3 separate regions of the Homo sapiens genome follow, and all the other regions are linked to region 1. A link means that fine-mapping ties the variant in region 1 to the expression of a gene that starts in the linked region. Tissue or cell type: fibroblasts. Region 1 holds a variant in brackets; each other region holds the start of a gene. All regions are shown on one strand. Distances are between the middles of the regions.

Region 1 (2,758 bases):
GCCCCTAGCTGTGGAGTCCCACAGGCCTGGCTCAGCCCCTTGCTGGATGTGTGACCTCAGAAAAGTTGCTTGTCCTCATCTACCCTCATTTTCTGTTTTTTATATGGGGATACTAACAACTCCTTGAAGGATTGTTTTGGGTGTGAAATGAGATCCTTGCATGTAGTTGACTTCTCTCCACAAACATTTACAGAGCACCGAGCATGAGCCAGGTACTCTGGAAGGGGCTTGGGATACAAAGCTCAATTGGACATGGTTCCTTGCCTTCAAGGGCCTTCTAGTCTAAGGGAGGAGGAACTAATTTAAGCAAAGTGTCTAGGCCAGTGGCTGATGGACACTAGAGGTTCCATAAATGTCGCTTTTGACCCCACCACCCCACTTTTTCTGGGGGAGGATGTGATAAGGTAAAGAAGAGGAGAGCTCCAGGTGTGACTGTGTTTGTGTTGCCTATGACCATGGCCACCTGCCCTGTCAGTGCTACCACCTAGGACGTGAGGCCTGGAATAGTTGAACAGGCTGGGAGACTCAGAATATGCACCTCTCAGCCCCAGTGCTGTAAGAGATGGGGAGAGGTTCCCAGGTCCCTGCTAATCTCTGTCGATTTCTAAACCTGGCATGGCCTATTTCTACTTTGCTGGATCCCAAGCCTAGTGAGGATCTAAGGAGGAGACCGTGGGACAGCTGAGGACCTCTGCTGTGGAGGGGCATGCTCTCCTTCTAAGCAGTCAGGTCCTGGCTCTGGTTCCTGAAGGAGCTGCCAAGCCCTGAGTTCTGGTTGGCTCCTCAGCCACAGAGAGGAGAGCCTGGCTTGGGTCAGTGCTGATGGAGTCAGAATGGACGCCTCCCTCGTGCGCACATATACATAAGATAGAGTCCCCAACTGTGGTTTTGTGACACACTGAGGCAGCAGGGTGGGCTGAGACACACCTCAAGAAATGTGATCTTGATGGCCATGGCTCAACAGGACTCATGGCTCATGTAGCTCAGGTGTAGCTTGATTTAAGGTGGCTGGGGGAATCTTAGGAGGTCCTTCTTTTTTTTTCCTCAAAGACAGGGTCTCACTCTGTTGCCCAGGCTGAAATACAGTGGTGCAATGTCACCATAGCTCACCTCAAACTCATGGGCTCATGTGGTCCCCCACCCCAGCCTCAAGGGGATCATTTCACACTTGCATGCTCCCTGCCATGAG[C/T]CATCCAATGTCCTGGGCCCAGTTGGATTCCAAGAGAAATGAATAACAAAGATTACCTAAGTTCCACAATTAGAAATGATTTCTCAAGACCATTTCCTTCTGCGCCACTCCCTTCTCTCTTATACATACCCCAATAGCATAGTCACCTCCAGTCAACGCAGAGTGTTGGGGGAAGGCAGACAAAGAGAAAACCTTAGTAACGTAGAACTTGCTGCTTCAATCTGTGTTCTTTGTCCTGGAAGCTGATATTCAAAAGGGGCTGGTATTCAGGTGCTTCTAGGATTTCTGAAGGGAGCTTTGAAGATTCTGGAATCTGGGGATCCACAAAGCCTAGGGCCCCCTTCAGAAATCCTAAACAGCACCTGGGGGGAAGGGGGGGCAAAGAGGTCACAGGTATTTCTTTTTTAACCTTTTCCATCTATACACTGTTGGCAGGGCTGGGAGAGGTGCTGAGCCAACTGGGTCTAAGGAACAGAGGCACACTTGTTTAACAGAGGCTTCTGACTCATTTAGTCAGGAAGGCCAGAAACCACACACAGATGTGTGGCCCCGCAAAGCCAGACAACTTGAAGAACTCAGGCAGATAGTGGGAACTGGAGGACAGATTTGAAGTTTTCCCTCCCATTTTCCTTTTTTGTTTTAATGTTAAACTTTCATGTTTTTATTACGATTATACCCCAACACGAATAATCATTCCAGTACTGAAATTTGGTTATTCTTAGCTGTGTGATTTGGGCAAGAAACTTAACTTTTCTGTGCCTCAGCTTCTTCATCTATAAACAGAAAAATCATAGTACCTCATAGGGTTGTTGTGAGCATTAATTAAGTTAAAATAGGGAAAGTGCTTAGAAGGGTTCCTGACATACCTTAATTTCCTGTGTTTTCTAATGTACACAAACACACACACACACACACACACACACACACACACACTAGAGTGAATTCAAACTCATTTCATTTGAATTCAGGTAGGTTTTTTGAGAGGGAAAGAAAGACCTAGTTTTGGGCTGACAGTCCAAAGACTGCATCTAATCCCACCCCTGGTCTACTGAGTTTCCTATTCCCAGACACCTACAGTCACCAGAGAGCATATTATGATTGTGGATATGTCATATATCCTGTGTGTAATGGTGAGAAAAGCTGCTAAGGCCTGCCCTGGTGATACAACAATGGGCCTACAACTTCAGCTTCTTGTTTCTCTCTAGGCATTGAGATGAAGTTCAAGAATATGCTGTTTCCTATGATTGTCTGCCCAGCCTGGATCCCTGAGCTGAATTCGGTAGAACATGGACCCGACGGTAAGAGGAGGTTCACTCCAAGCTTATGGAGGGGCTGTGAGGCTGGGGATAGGTTACAAGGTGGGTGGCAGGTATCAGGGTGGTCTCCCCACTGGCTCTGGCTGCCCCCTGCTTCTCCTGGGGCTCACCTTGCACAGGGAAAGGCGGGAGGAGACCCCATTCATTGCTGAAACATCCATGGTAGGGTGCCAGTGGGCAAGAGGCTGCGGGATCTTCAATCATTTTTCTCAATTCTGGCTACACATTAGAATCACTCATGCGGGGGTGGGGA
Region 2 (2,500 bases), 30 kb before region 1:
CCAACCATCCCAGTTTGCCCTGGACTGAAGGATTTACTAGGATCTCTGAGGCATTTGTCAGGGATTCAAGGCTAAAACTAGGATAGTCCAGGGCAAACTGGGATATTTGGTCAACCAACAAGTAAAGTTTCATCTCCTGGTTAAATTAAGGCTGTGGTGAGAGGGGGCATTGTGTTGATTGTGTGGTTGTCCTGTCAGTCTTCAGTTTCTCTAAGCTGTTGCTATATCAAGTACATCTGCCTAATACTCCTTTCTTCCCCCTCAGGTAGCCTGCTAGGGTTGTAGGGGAGGTGTCTTACTTAAGGAAGGCTGGCTGAGCCACTGTATGGGTCATTACAGGACAGAAGAAGACCAGAGTGAATGCTGGTCTCTGTGTGTTTTTTTTTTTTTTTTTTTTTTTTTTTTTGCGTGTGTGTGTGTGTTGAACTAAAGAACTGGTAGGGGCAGTTGGGAGGGTGCTGGACTGCAGAGAGCCCTTTAGTGCTGCTCCAGTGGACGTGCACATCTGTGTTTCCACTGAGAGTTAATGGATATTGGATGGGGAAAGGTTTTCAGCTATGTGTTACTGTAGCCTATGACTATGTGGTATGAGCATTTTAATTTATTTGGTGTTTTGAAATACTTTTATGAGTTACTCTGACAACTTGTCAAGGATATTTTCCTGAGAGAAACAAATAAAAGACAAATCTCAAAAATAGTTTGCTATTAGGATTTTATTTGTTGAGATGTTGAAGATGTCTTTTCAACAGTGATACATGTTTTGGTTCTTTGCAAATTTACAAGGCACTCCCAAAATGTCATTTGTCCCTCATTCTTCTATTCTTGATATCATTCTATGATCCTGTACAGGATGAAAGCAACTGAGTTCTGAAGGTAGTAAGTAACATGCTGAGGTCAAATGCCAGGATTTGAGTCAGGTTCATGGGGCTCCATGTCCTGTGACCTCTCTGCTCCACCAGGCTGTGAAAGAATGACTCTTGCATTCATGCAGTCAGTCTGTGTTGCTGTAAACCTGAATGGTAAAATGACAAATGTAGACACAGAGGGTGTGAATCAGCTCTATTAGCAGTGACTCTGAGAATAGTCCTTTCCCTCCTCTGTCTTCCCCTTCTCTGTCTTGCAGCAAGTGGGAGGACGAAGCAGGTTTCATAAGAGCAGCGCCCAAGACCCACAGTCGCCTAGTGCCAAGTCAACAACCTTACTGATATCTGGATGTAGTTTCCTGTGCTCTTTGACACAGGTGTGGAGATTGTAATTTGCTGTGTGTGATTGTTTGCACTTCCTTGATTATGTAAACCAGTGGCTTTTGCCAAGAACTCTTCATGCCCTGAAGCTCTGAGCTGGTTCCCTCCCATTGGTGGACCTTATTTCATTTTATTGGGAGGCGTAACTTTCAGGTCACAGAGCAGTGATAACTACCTGCCAGTGTCTCTTAGGAGTGAGGTACCTGGAGTTCGGGGACCCCAACCTGTGACAATGACAGCAGACAAATTGGTTTTCTTTGTGAATGGCAGAAAGGTAAGTAGGAGCTGACCTTTGGTTTTGTGTCCCTTCTCCCTGGGAGGGGAAATGTGTCCTCTGGCAGAGCCATATCTTGTTCTCTGTCTTTCCTGTCCCCTCTTACTTGTTCTGTCTTTCTCTCTCTCGCTTTAAAGGTGTCGCTGCATTTTGGTAACATTAGGGAAGAAGACCTTCTCGGGGCTAGAGCACAGACAAGATACTCAGAGGCCAAAGAATGAGGGAGAGAGAGGCAAGCAGAGAGGCATCTGTGAGCTAGCTGCCAACTCTCTGCAGTAGTGGAGATTGGCACAGAATGAGAAAGGGGAGTTGAGTTCTAGGTGAGATTTGAGGTCATCACCACACTTCTATTTCTGTCTTTAATCAAATATATCCTAAAATTTACGTTGCTCTCTTTACAGAGAGAAGGAACAGGAATGTGTTTTCCTGCTTTTATCAGGATATAAGATGTACGCAGCCTTTGATTCTAATATATTATATATATAGGTTTAACAGCCAGTCCTGATTCACTGTGAGGTGACATATACTGACACCTTGTGGCAAACCACAATTTTTTTTTCATAAAGGGCATCTCCTGCATTCCCCCCACTCCCCACCCACACACAGTGAGTTCTACATGTAAGCTGCAAATCTGTTACCTACTTGAATTTACCTTATTGGTACACAGGGACTTAGGGAAGGTGACATGGGTACCAGCCCTTGGACAAGAGTGAGAATCTTTGCAAATTTTAATGTGGTGCAGAGAGAGAGGGGGCAAGCATATTACATGGTCACTAGCCTCCATTTGCCCTCCTACAACACTGCTGAGATGCTCATACCTGTTCAACTTCCCACTTAGGAATGAAAAGGATAGTAAAAGAGTCCCATAGTTGCACATTGTAACTTACTGTGTGGACTGTGCGTGATGAATGTGCCCAAAGTGTCCCCCAAAGAAGGGCAATTTTATTTGTCTTTCTATATTGGCATTTTTGCATTGAGTTGA
Region 3 (2,500 bases), 250 kb after region 1:
CAGATAACACCAGCACCTTGCATTCAGCTTTCACCACTACTCATTTGCTTGTCAGAGGAGGTATTTTCCCTCCATTTTACAGATGAGGAATCGAAGACTGGGAGAAGGTAAATGACTTACCCAAGACTCACACAGTGAGTGTGACAGCTAGGTCAGTACTCTCTGGTCAGTGATCTGGCCGTGATTCCAGCCTACTTGAGCCTACATGGGAATTGGAGTTAGAATTTGCTTTGCTTCTAGATCCAAGCGGTTTTAATCTGCAAGTGGGAGGGGGATACAATTCCCAAAGGCCCTTGGGAAAAGGGGCTTTTGAAAGATCACCCTCTGCACCCAGTATCCTCCTGCCCAGGGTCACTTTCCAAGAATCCCAAGTGGTTGTTCCAACTTTGGACCTCTTTTCTTGCAAGCACAAAGCCCTGATGCTTACAGGGAGAGAAAACCTTTATGGGAGATAATTGCGCCTTAATTTTTTAAAGGATATCTTTAAAGTTAAAATTAGACCAGCTCAGCTTTCCTTCCGTTAAGCAGAAAAAGTTACCAGGCACCTGCAGGCAGGCATAGAAACACCCTGGGGAGTTGGCTGACCGCGGCCTTGGCCCTCAGTAGCCAGGCAAGTGAACCGCGGGTTTGGGGCAGCAGCCCTGCCGGCGCCCTGGAATCCCAGCCTTGGCTGTGGTAGGACGAGCACATTGGGGGTGGGACCCCGGCTTCAGCGCCACGTGCAGCCCCCGCGATGAGCGGGAAAGTCCTCCCAGGCACAGCGCCGCCTGGCGAGGGCCGGCCCTTGGGTCCCAGCTGGCAGCTGGGGGTGGCGGGCATCCCGAGTGCACCGCTCCCGCCCCGCCCCGCCTTGCCCCAACCCACGATGGTCTGGGAGCTGCGCCCAGGGCTTGGCGCTGGCGGCCCCGCAACAGCACCGAGCGTTTCGGTCGGCGGGCGGCGGTAGCGCCCCCTCTCAGAGCCCCGCTCACTCCCACCTGGGCTCGCTCCGAGTCGGCCTGTCTGTCGGGCCCGCCCTCCCCGCTCACTCCCTCCGCCCTCGTGCTCCTCCCGGGGTGCTTGGCACAGCCTCGGATTCCTCCCTCTCGCTGCTCGAGTCAGTTTCCCTATCGGCGGCAGCGGGCAAGGCGGCGGCGGCGGCGGCGGCAGCCGCGGTGGCGGCGTGGGGAACATCTCGGCAGCCACCGCGCTTCTCCCGCTGGAGCGGGCGTCCAGCTTGGCTGCCCTCGGTCCTTCCCTGCCACGTTTCGGGTCGCCCTGCACCCCCCACCCAGGCTCGCTTCTCTTCGAAGCGGGAAGGGCGCCTTGCAGGATCCTGCCGCCCCTCCAACCGGATCCTGGGTCTAGAGCTCCCCAGAGCGAGGCGCTCGCCAGGACTCCTGCCCCGCCAACCCTGACCGCCGGGGGGTGCCCCCGGGACGTAGCGCCGCGGAGAGGAAGCGGCAAAGGGGACCATGCGGCGCCTGACTCGTCGGCTGGTTCTGCCAGTCTTCGGGGTGCTCTGGATCACGGTGCTGCTGTTCTTCTGGGTAACCAAGAGGAAGTTGGAGGTGCCGACGGGACCTGAAGTGCAGACCCCTAAGGTAGGCGGCTTGCCGGCGCGCTGGCGCTGAGCGGTGGCTTGCGGGAGGGCGCGCAGCCCGCGTGCCGGGTTTGCGGGCTCCCGGGAAACCAGGGCGAGGGTCTGGGTGCTGCGAGCAGGTAACAGCCGCCGGATGTGGCTACCATGTGATGTTTCTGGATTTTAAAACGCTCGGGGGCATCTCCGGACCCGCGGTGTGCATGAGTGGCAGTGGGTGTGGGTGGTGGGCGCGCGCTCGCCTGCGGAGCGGGGCTCCCAACTTGAGCTGCGCGCGAGGGTCCCGGGGCGGAGGGGGCTCTGCGGACGGGCGGCCCAGGGGCTGGCGGTCTCCGGGCGCTGCCAGAGAGTCGCCGGCGGTCGGGTCGGGCCAGCGCCCGGGCGAAGTGTGGCGGCTGCGCTGACCTCCTTCCCGCAGCTGCCAGGCCCGACCTGGGGAGGCCGGAGGCCGGGTGCGCCGCGCGCGCCTGTGCGTTGCGGGCGAGCGCCTTGCAGCCTCCCGGGCGGCTGCCACCCCTGTTCTCTAACTGTTCCCGACCCTCTCAGCTGCATTGGAAGTTGAATGTGCCCAGAACACCACGAAAGAGCCTGTAAAAACAGACGCCTTGGTATTGGCGGGGAGTTGAGGAAATGGGAATCCAAGTGGCTTTTCCAACTCCTGCTCAGTCAGTTCCTGTGAGGGAGCCAGAAGGTTCCCCCTATAGGCTCACTCTTACCTTCAGATTCAGAGCCCTGTAGGGGGAAAGGGAAAACTTCCCCATGGCTCTCCGAAGGTTCACTGAAAATCAGTTGACAAAAGGCAGATCAATAGGAGAAAAGGCATAATAATTTATTTGATCATAGTTTTTCGTGACATGGTAGCCTTCCGTTTTCTCTTCACAGATTTGGCCCGGGGACACGGAAGGAGGCCTCTGGGGGATT

Alleles and levels. Alleles are on the strand shown, and positions count from the first base shown. SD is a standard deviation of normalised expression in the study named. Not every link is listed here.
As copies of T replace C in region 1, the expression in fibroblasts of the gene that starts at base 1,401 in region 2 goes up (large effect, 1.0 SD a copy in GTEx).

The links. PIP is the estimated chance that this variant, and not a neighbour inherited with it, causes the effect.
Region 2: it holds the start of XDH, and the variant in region 1 is fine-mapped to the expression of XDH in fibroblasts (GTEx, PIP above 0.99).
Region 3: it holds the start of GALNT14, and the variant in region 1 is fine-mapped to the expression of GALNT14 in fibroblasts (GTEx, PIP above 0.99).

What each region holds. Positions count from the first base shown.
Region 1 is chr2:31,383,484-31,386,241 of GRCh38, reverse strand. XDH (xanthine dehydrogenase) reads left to right here. Exons shown (of 36, transcript NM_000379.4): 10 at 2,395-2,487. Among named protein-coding and RNA genes, the nearest start is that of XDH, 30 kb to the left of the region's middle. RefSeq lists an enhancer at 2,674-2,758. The variant C/T (reference allele first, on the strand shown) is at 1,190.
Region 2 is chr2:31,413,643-31,416,142 of GRCh38, reverse strand. It overlaps XDH (xanthine dehydrogenase), which reads left to right and starts at 1,401. Exons shown (of 36, transcript NM_000379.4): 1 at 1,401-1,518. The coding sequence starts at 1,477.
Region 3 is chr2:31,137,041-31,139,540 of GRCh38, reverse strand. GALNT14 (polypeptide N-acetylgalactosaminyltransferase 14) reads left to right here and starts at 1,101. Exons shown (of 15, transcript NM_024572.4): 1 at 1,101-1,583. The coding sequence starts at 1,455.